Linked DNA regions of Homo sapiens: all the other regions are linked to region 2. The links come from fine-mapping of genetic effects on gene expression. A gene starts in region 2. Each other region holds a variant in brackets. All regions are shown on one strand. Distances are from middle to middle.

Region 1 (2,647 bases), 23 kb after region 2:
GGAAACAAATTTTCCTGAATTATAATCTGTAGTACTTCAGAATTTAGAGATCCTATTAAATGTGCAAGTTGAGACTGAGGTCCAGTAATGCTGATGTGAAGTTGTTGACTGCTGGTACAATCCCCAGTGACAGTGCTTAGAACATGACTCTTTCTGTAGTATAATGTCAGACTGTTTTTTTTTTTTTTTTGAGATGGAGTCTCGCTCTATCACCCAGGCTGGAGTGCAGTGGCGTGATCTCCGCTCACTGCAAGGTCCGCCTCCCAGGTTCACGCCATTCTCCTGCCTCAGCCTCCCAAGTAGCTGGGACTACAGGTGCCTGCTACCACGCCCGGCTAATTTGTTTTGTATTTTTAGTCGAGACGGGGTTTCACCATGTTAGCCAGGATGGTCTTGATTTCTTGACCTCGTGATCCACCCACCTCGGCCTCCCAGAATGCTGGGATCACAGGTGTGAGCCACTGTGCCCAGCCTAATGTCAGACTTTTAAAATTTGATTACTAGGCCAAGCATAGTGGCTCACACCTATAATCTCAGCACTTTGGGAAGCCAAGGTGGGAGGATTGCTTGAGCCCAGGAGTTCAAGACCAGCCTGGGTACCATAGTGAGGCCTGGTTTCTACAAAAAATAAAAATAAATAAATAAATAAATAAATATATATATATATATATATATATTAGCTGGGTTTGATGGCGCATGCCCCTAGTCCCAGCTACTGAGGAGGCTGAGATGGGGAGAATCACTTGAGCCTGGGAGGTTGAGGCTACAGAAAGCTATAATCACACCACTGCACTTCAGCCTGGATGACACACGGAGACCCCATCTCAAAAATAAATAAATAAACAAACAAACAAATATGAATACTAGCTGAGCAGGTGGCCCATGCCTGTAGCTCCAGTACTTGGGAGGCAAAGGCAGGAGGATCACTTAAGTCCAGGAGTTCAGGTTCAGCCTGGGCAACATAGTGAGACCCTATCTCTATTAAAAATTTTTGGCCGGGCACGGTGTATTTTTTAATAGAGACAGGGTTTCTCCATGTTGGTTAGGCTGGTCTTGAACTCCCAACCTCAGGTGATCTGTCCACCTTGGCCTCCCAAAGTGCTGGGATTACAGGCATGAGCCACCACTCCTGGCCAAAAAAAAAATTTTTTTTTTTTAGATTTGATTACTAACATTGTTAATAAAATTATAATAATGTAATTATTGTGATTCGATTTTAGTTTTCTTTGTGTATCCCAGAGGTTCATTTTATGATGTGAGCCTTGGCTCTGGCTGACTCAATTTTCACATCAGGCATTGGGCCCAGTTGTATATTTGGGCCACTTCTAGCTGGAGAGAAGAGGGATGGTGGTAGAGACAGCTGAGAACCACCAGCACTGTATTGCTTGCTGAAGGTGACCAGTAGGAGCTGGGAGCTAGCAGAAGCCCACCAGGTTCCCCCCAGCGTGATCCCTTCCTGCCCTGCCCCAGCTGTGGAAGGCCAGTGAGGTTGCTGTCTCAGGAAGGGCTGTCAGGGCCAAAGGGACTGAAC[T/C]CAGGACCTTTTGCTGTCTTCCAGCCTTGCACCAGGGAACGTCTAAATCTTCCTCTCTCCCCGCCTATGGCAGGACCACCCTGAGCCGGGTAAGGTCTCAGGACCAGAGATATAGACTACGTGGGAGGAACGTGCATGTGGGGTGCTGAGGGACTGAGCCACTTGGGCACCCTCAGGGAGCGGGGAGACCCCCAAAGTGAAGGGGACCAAAGGTGAATATCCCCGACTGCCTCTGATTCCTTTGTGTCCTTTCTAGCTACAGTCCACAGAGTTCAGCCCATCAGGGAGTGAGACTGGAAGCCCAGGTGAGAAGTGGGGCCTGGTGCCGGGGTCTGGAGAAGGGGCTTACACAGGTCCCTGGGCAGCCGGGGTCTGGGCTGTGGGCAGGGGTCTGGTGAGGTCAGGCGTGTTGGCCTGCTGACCTCAGAGCTGCATCTGACCCATGCCCCTTCTCTCCCGCAGGCCTGCAGGTGAGTGCCTCCTGGAGGGGAACAGGCAGAGCAGCAGAAGCTGGGTCCTGGCACCCGAAAGTGTCAGGGGAAGGGGGGTGTGGGGCCACAGAGTTGCCTGGTGAAGAAGAAGAAGCCGGGGTAAGGCTGGGAAGGTCTCCCTGCCCCGCTCTGGCTCACTGCGGCTTTGGTCTCCCCAGAACGGAGAGGGCCAGAGGGGGAGGATGGACCGGGGGAACTCCCTGCCCTGTGTGCTGGAGCAGAAGGTGAGGGGCAGGGGACACAAGCGCCTGTAGCGGGGCGGGAGGCTGGGGAGATGCCAGGCAAGTGGAATGTGCTGCGGGGTCTTCCTGGTGTTGAAGATGGGAGGGATGGCAGGGAAGTTGGGGGAGACAGAGGGCAAGATGGCATGAACCCCAGTGGCCTCTGCAGGTTGATGTGGGAGGCCTAGGGAGTCGAAGGACAGGATATTCTGTGAGCCTAAGATTGCCCCTCCCCCCACCCCCAGATCTATCCCTATGAAATGCTAGTGGTGACCAACAAGGGGCGAACCAAGCTGCCACCGGGGGTGGATCGGATGCGGCTTGAGGTAGGCAAGGAAGATGCCCTGGATGGGTGCGGGGCTGTCCACGGGCACTCTCCTGCCTGGGGGAAGATCTGGGGCCTC
Region 2 (2,673 bases):
CCCCAGGTTTTCTCTACCTTCACAGCCACCCCCGCCTGGCTGCAGCAGCTCAGCCTGTGTTCTGTCTCCCTTCTCAGCCACCTGCCTCCTTCCTTCCTCCCTTCTCTCTGGAGCCCATCCCTCAGGTTACTGTCCTCTCTGTCCCCACCAGCCAGATACTTTCTGTCCCCTCCTGGCCTCTTCCCTCAAGCCCCTCCCCCTGTGCTTCTCCATTCAGACACCCCAGAGCCCCCTCCCCAGATTCTAGATTTCCCCAACAACAGCTGATACCATCAGCTGACCGGCTGGGGGCAGGGTTGCCAGGGCAACGGTGAGGGCTGCCTAGGTAGGCAAGTCTGCGGTGTGGAGGTGGAGAGGACATTGGGGCCAGGGCGAGGGTCGAGGGCAAGGCTTGTTGTCCTTCCCCATCCTGCCCAGGGGGCCCGAAAGGCCAATGAGAGGCTCCTGGGGTGGTTGAGGCTTTGCTAGAGACAGGGAAGGCACATGCCTGTAAATTCTGTGCTGGGACCCAGGGGTTACCAGGCAGGAAGCTCCTTTTTCATGAAGCCACCCTAGGGAGAGATGGGGTCCTTCTCTCTCTCTGCTGCATCCCATTGGAGTTCCCAGGGGATTCAGGTTACTGAGGGGCCAGCTCAAGTCTCAGTACTGAGGACCTGGTTGCATCCCTCCATTCTACCCTCCCAGGAGAGAGCTCATCCTTGGGTAACCAATTCTGGCCTGTGCCTGCACCCCCACCTCAAGAGGCTGGGCCCCAGAGGCCTCAGTTGCTGCTGTCAGATGGTGGGGTGGTCATGAATAGGGTAGGAGGTGCAGGTGCCTGGAGAAAGCAGGCATTGTCCGCCTGGGTCATCAGTAGCCCCCTCCCTCGACCCACCGCCCACAGCAACTTGAACTCTGGCTGTTTAGGAGGAGGCTGAGGGGCTCTGGGTGCGTGTGGGTGTGTGTGTGCGTGTGAGTGCTGCAGACTGCGGTGTGGGAAAGGGAGAGGACAGTGCTGGCTGATTCTGCTTTGTCATGACGCTGGGTTAATGCTCCTCTTGTTTGAAATGGATTGAGCTGCAGCGCTGGTGGAAGAGCGCGCACATCCACACACACACCCTTGCCAGCCACACGCTATCAGCTGGAAGTGGGGAGGGCGCGGGGAGGGCGTGGGGGAGCCAGCAGCCCGCCCGCCCTCCCGCCCCCAGACGAGGACTCCCCAGCACCGGGGGATCCAGGCGGCCGTGCGTTGCAGAGAAGCAGGGTGGGGGCAAGGAGGGTGGGGGCCCAGAGGGGAGATCAGACCGCTCAGCCGAGACCAGCTCCCCTCCTTCGCCAGCTCCCACCCCGCCCACCCACCCTAAGCCGGCATTTTTCCTGTTATTTGTGCTCCGGGGAAGCGCCGCGGGGTTCCTGGAAGAGACACCTATTACCTAGGCTCCTGGGGGAAGTGACAGCCCGTGGATCTGGCCTACGCCTCTCGGGCCTCTGTGGCCTCAGAGCGTCTGGGCCACACTGTCTGGGAAGAGGTAGGTGGCAGGGTCTCCGCCTCTCCTCCCCTCTGTGGGCACTCTGGGCCACAGCGCTTGCTGGCGAGCCAGGCTTTGGGTGGCAGCAGGGTATCTGGGGGGAGCCCACTGTGGGCCCTGTTCAGTGGGAGGATGGGCCGGCCCCTGGGACCAGCTGGGCCTGATCTAATGGAACCTTCTGATCTGGGGAAGAGGGCCTGGGGTGTTCTCATCCCAAGGATGAGAACTGCTCCCAGCCCAATCCCCTCTTTGCCAGCATCTCTGCCTGGCCTACCTAGCTGAGCAGGCCAGCAATGGAAGGGATGGACTGTGGGGGCACGGGGTGGGCAGGGGAGCATTCCCTCTCTGCTGAATACTGGCCCGCTGGCCTCCCCAAAACCACTCCACATGCTCTGGGGGTTGGAGCAGTACATTTAGGGGCCTGAGGCTGTTTGTTTGGAGCCTGCTTTTTAGGGGGAGTGGGAGGAGAGCCTGCCCCCAGCCAGTGGCTGGCCAGGCTGGGGTGGGGCTGAGTGAAGAGTGAGGCTGTGGCAGGGCGCAGCTGCAAGCCCAAGCCCAGTACTCCCCCTGTGCCCGCCGCTGGGGTGCTTGAAGGGGCCAGGGCTGAGCAGACATGCAGCCCCCACAGGGTTCTGGGGCTCCCCCTCCCTAGCTCTGTCCCTCAGGGCCTAGCAGGTCCAGCCCCCTTTCTTGGGCAGACACACCCAGTGTGTCCCTTCCAGGGACCAGTTGCCTGGTTGTGAGAGTCAGGGGAGCAGGGACAGGTCCAAGACAAGGAAGGCAGTTGGGCTGTGGGAATGGGGAGCCCAGGGAAGGCCTCCAGAGCTGGGTAAGTGGAGGGCTCTGTGTATGTTGCTGTACACGTGCACTACTCTGGGATGGATGCCAGGGAGAGGACCGGTGGGTGGGTGTGAGCGGGTGTTGGCAGCACCATGTGTCACAGTGAGGGGGCCTCGATGGGAGAGTGGGGGCATGAGCTGGCACACAGGGCTTCGGAGTCTCCCCGCGTGCATGCGTCCTGCAACGGTTTCAGCGCGGGCGCTTCTGCCTGTGCCCACCTGTCCATCTTGTGTCCGTGCTGCCGGCCTCTCTGTGGTCAGGCGTTAGACTCCTGGGTGAGGTTGTCCACCCGTGGGTGGATGTCTGCAGAATCCCTCTCCTAGAG
Region 3 (2,655 bases), 360 kb after region 2:
TCCTGCTCAACGCTGGGATGAGCATCCAACAAGCTCTCTTCTTCAACTTCCTTTCTGCCTGCTGCTGCTACCTGGGTCTGGCCTTTGGCATCCTGGCCGGCAGCCACTTCTCTGCCAACTGGATTTTTGCGCTAGCTGGAGGAATGTTCTTGTATATTTCTCTGGCTGATATGGTAAGTGTTCCACAGTTCACTGGATGAGAGGGCGGCTAAGGGGATGGATGTTAGGTAGGTAGTTTTTTTTTATTTTTATTTTTTTGAGATGGAGTCTCACTCTGTCTCCCAGGCTGGAGTGCAGTGGCATGATCTCAGCTCACTGCAACCTCCGCGTCCCGGGTTCAAGTGATTCGCCTGCCTCAGCCTCCTGAGTAGCTGGGATTACAGACGTGTGCCACCACGCCTGGCTAATTTTTGTATTTTTAGTAGAGATGGGGTTTCCCCATATTGGCCAGGCTAGTCTCGAACTCCCGGCCTCAGGTGATCCACCCGCCTCGGCATCCCAAAGTGCTGAGATTACAGGCATGAACCACCGCACATGGCTGGTAGTTTGTTTTTAATAACATCTTCCTTAGCTTTCTTTCACATACCACAGAGTTCGTCTGTTTAAGGTGTACCTACCATTCAGCGGTTTTTAAGGGGGCATTAGATTTTAAAGGAGGAAAAGTTTATGTTTTTGTTAGCATATGTCATTAAAGAAAATGATTATAATTTATCTATGGTCTTTATTAATTATTATGGAATGGCTGTATATAGATAAGAGACAGAAGAAAGGAAAGAAAATTACGCATAATCATACATCATACTACCCCTAAAACAATAATAGCAATACTTTGGTTTGTTTCTTTTTTTATCTCAATGCATTGGGTGTGTCTTTTTCTTTAATTTTTTTTTTTTAGACAGAACCTCACTCACCTAGCCTGGAGTGCAGTGTGTGATCATAGGTCACTGCAACCTTGAACTCCGGAGCTTAAGTGATCCTCCTCCCTCAGTCTCCCAAGCAGCTAGGACTACAGGCTCCAGCCACCATGCCCAGCTAATTTTTTGAATTTTTATAGAATGGGGTCTCTATGCTGCCTAGGCTGGTCTTGAACTTGTGGCCTCAAGGGATCCTCCCATCTCAGCCTCTCAAAGTGCTGGGATTATAGGTGTGAGCCACTGCATCTAGCTTGTTAATAATATCTTGATAACAAAAAGACCTCTTAAAGTGTTTAAAGTCCATA[A/G]TAAGGCCAGGCATGGTGGCAGGCACCTGTGGAGCTACTCAGGAGGCTGAAGTGGGACAATTGCTCGAGCCCAGGAGTTTGAGGCTGCAGTGAGCTATGTTCGCACCACTGCACTCGAGCCTGGGCAAGAGCGAGTGGAAAAAAGGAAAAAAAAAAGTCTATAATATAAAGTTTATTTTTTATCAGAGTACATTTATTTTTAGCCAGCCTCTAAACTCATCCAGAGCCACATACACGTTGAGTACTTTGTTTTACCTAGACAGTTGTAAAGACATGGTACCTGCTATTGTTAATTTTCTTTTTTTGTTTTGTTTTGTTTTGGAGATGGAGTCTCGCTCTGTTGCCCAGGCGGGAGTGCAGTGGTGTGATCTCCATTCACTGCAGCCTTGCCTTCCGGGTTCAAGCAATTCTCCTGCCTCAGCCTCCCAAGTAGCTGGGACTACAGGCCTGCGCCACCACGCCCAGCTAATTTTTATGTTTTTAGTAGAGACAGGGTTTCACCATGTTGGTCAGGCTGGTCTCGAACTCCTGACCTCTAGTGAGCCGCTGCACCTGGCCCTGATAATTTTCTTTGTCAACCAACCTGATCTATATCTCCATCACTGAATTGCCCTGGACTTACAAGATGAAGAAGGAATTGCAGCTGTGTTGTTTCTTGCTTCTTTCCCAGTTCCCTGAGATGAATGAGGTCTGTCAAGAGGATGAAAGGAAGGGCAGCATCTTGATTCCATTTATCATCCAGAACCTGGGCCTCCTGACTGGATTCACCATCATGGTGGTCCTCACCATGTATTCAGGACAGATCCAGATTGGGTAGGGCTCTGCCAAGAGCCTGTGGGACTGGAAGTCGGGCCCTGGGCTGCCCGATCGCCAGCCCGAGGACTTACCATCCACAATGCACCACGGAAGAGGCCGTTCTATGAAAAACTGACACAGACTGTATTCCTGCATTCAAATGTCAGCCGTTTGTAAAATGCTGTATCCTAGGAATAAGCTGCCCTGGTAACCAGTCTCTAGCTAGTGCCTCTTGCCCTCTCCTCACCTCCTTTTCTCTCAGTGACTCTGGAACCTGAATGCAGCTTACAAGACAAGCCTGACTTTTTTCTCTGATTACCTTGGCCTCCTCTTGGAACCAGTGCTGAAAGGTTTTGAATCCTTTACCCAACAATGCAAAAATAGAGCCAATGGTTATAACTTGGCTAGAAATATCAAGAGTTGAATCCATAGTGTGGGGCCCATGACTCTAGCTGGGCACCTTGGACCTCCAGCTGGCCAATAGAAGAGACAGGAGACAGGAAGCCTTCCCATTTTTTCAAAGTCTGTTTAATTGCCTATTACTTCTCTCAAAGAGAACCTGAAGTCAGAACACATGAGCAGGGTGAGAGGTGAGGCAAGGTTCATCCTGAATGGGAGAGGAAGTCGAACCACTGCTGTGT

The links.
Region 1: its variant is fine-mapped to the expression of DMTN in nasal epithelium (TOPMed, PIP 0.95).
Region 3: its variant is fine-mapped to the expression of DMTN in prostate (GTEx, PIP 0.97).

Annotation. Positions count from the first base shown.
Region 1 is chr8:22,078,625-22,081,271 of GRCh38, forward strand. It overlaps DMTN (dematin actin binding protein), which reads left to right. Exons shown (of 16, transcript NM_001387751.1): 11 at 1,556-1,620; 12 at 1,788-1,836; 13 at 1,994-2,001; 14 at 2,181-2,246; 15 at 2,489-2,569. Among named protein-coding and RNA genes, the nearest start is that of FHIP2B, 9.2 kb to the right of the region's middle. The variant T/C (reference allele first, on the strand shown) is at 1,532.
Region 2 is chr8:22,055,629-22,058,301 of GRCh38, forward strand. It overlaps DMTN (dematin actin binding protein), which reads left to right and starts at 1,186. Exons shown (of 16, transcript NM_001387751.1): 1 at 1,186-1,508. RefSeq lists an enhancer at 2,304-2,673.
Region 3 is chr8:22,417,663-22,420,317 of GRCh38, forward strand. SLC39A14 (solute carrier family 39 member 14) reads left to right here. Exons shown (of 9, transcript NM_001128431.4): 8 at 1-173; 9 at 1,890-2,655. The coding sequence ends at 2,036. Among named protein-coding and RNA genes, the nearest start is that of PPP3CC, 22 kb to the right of the region's middle. The variant A/G (reference allele first, on the strand shown) is at 1,220.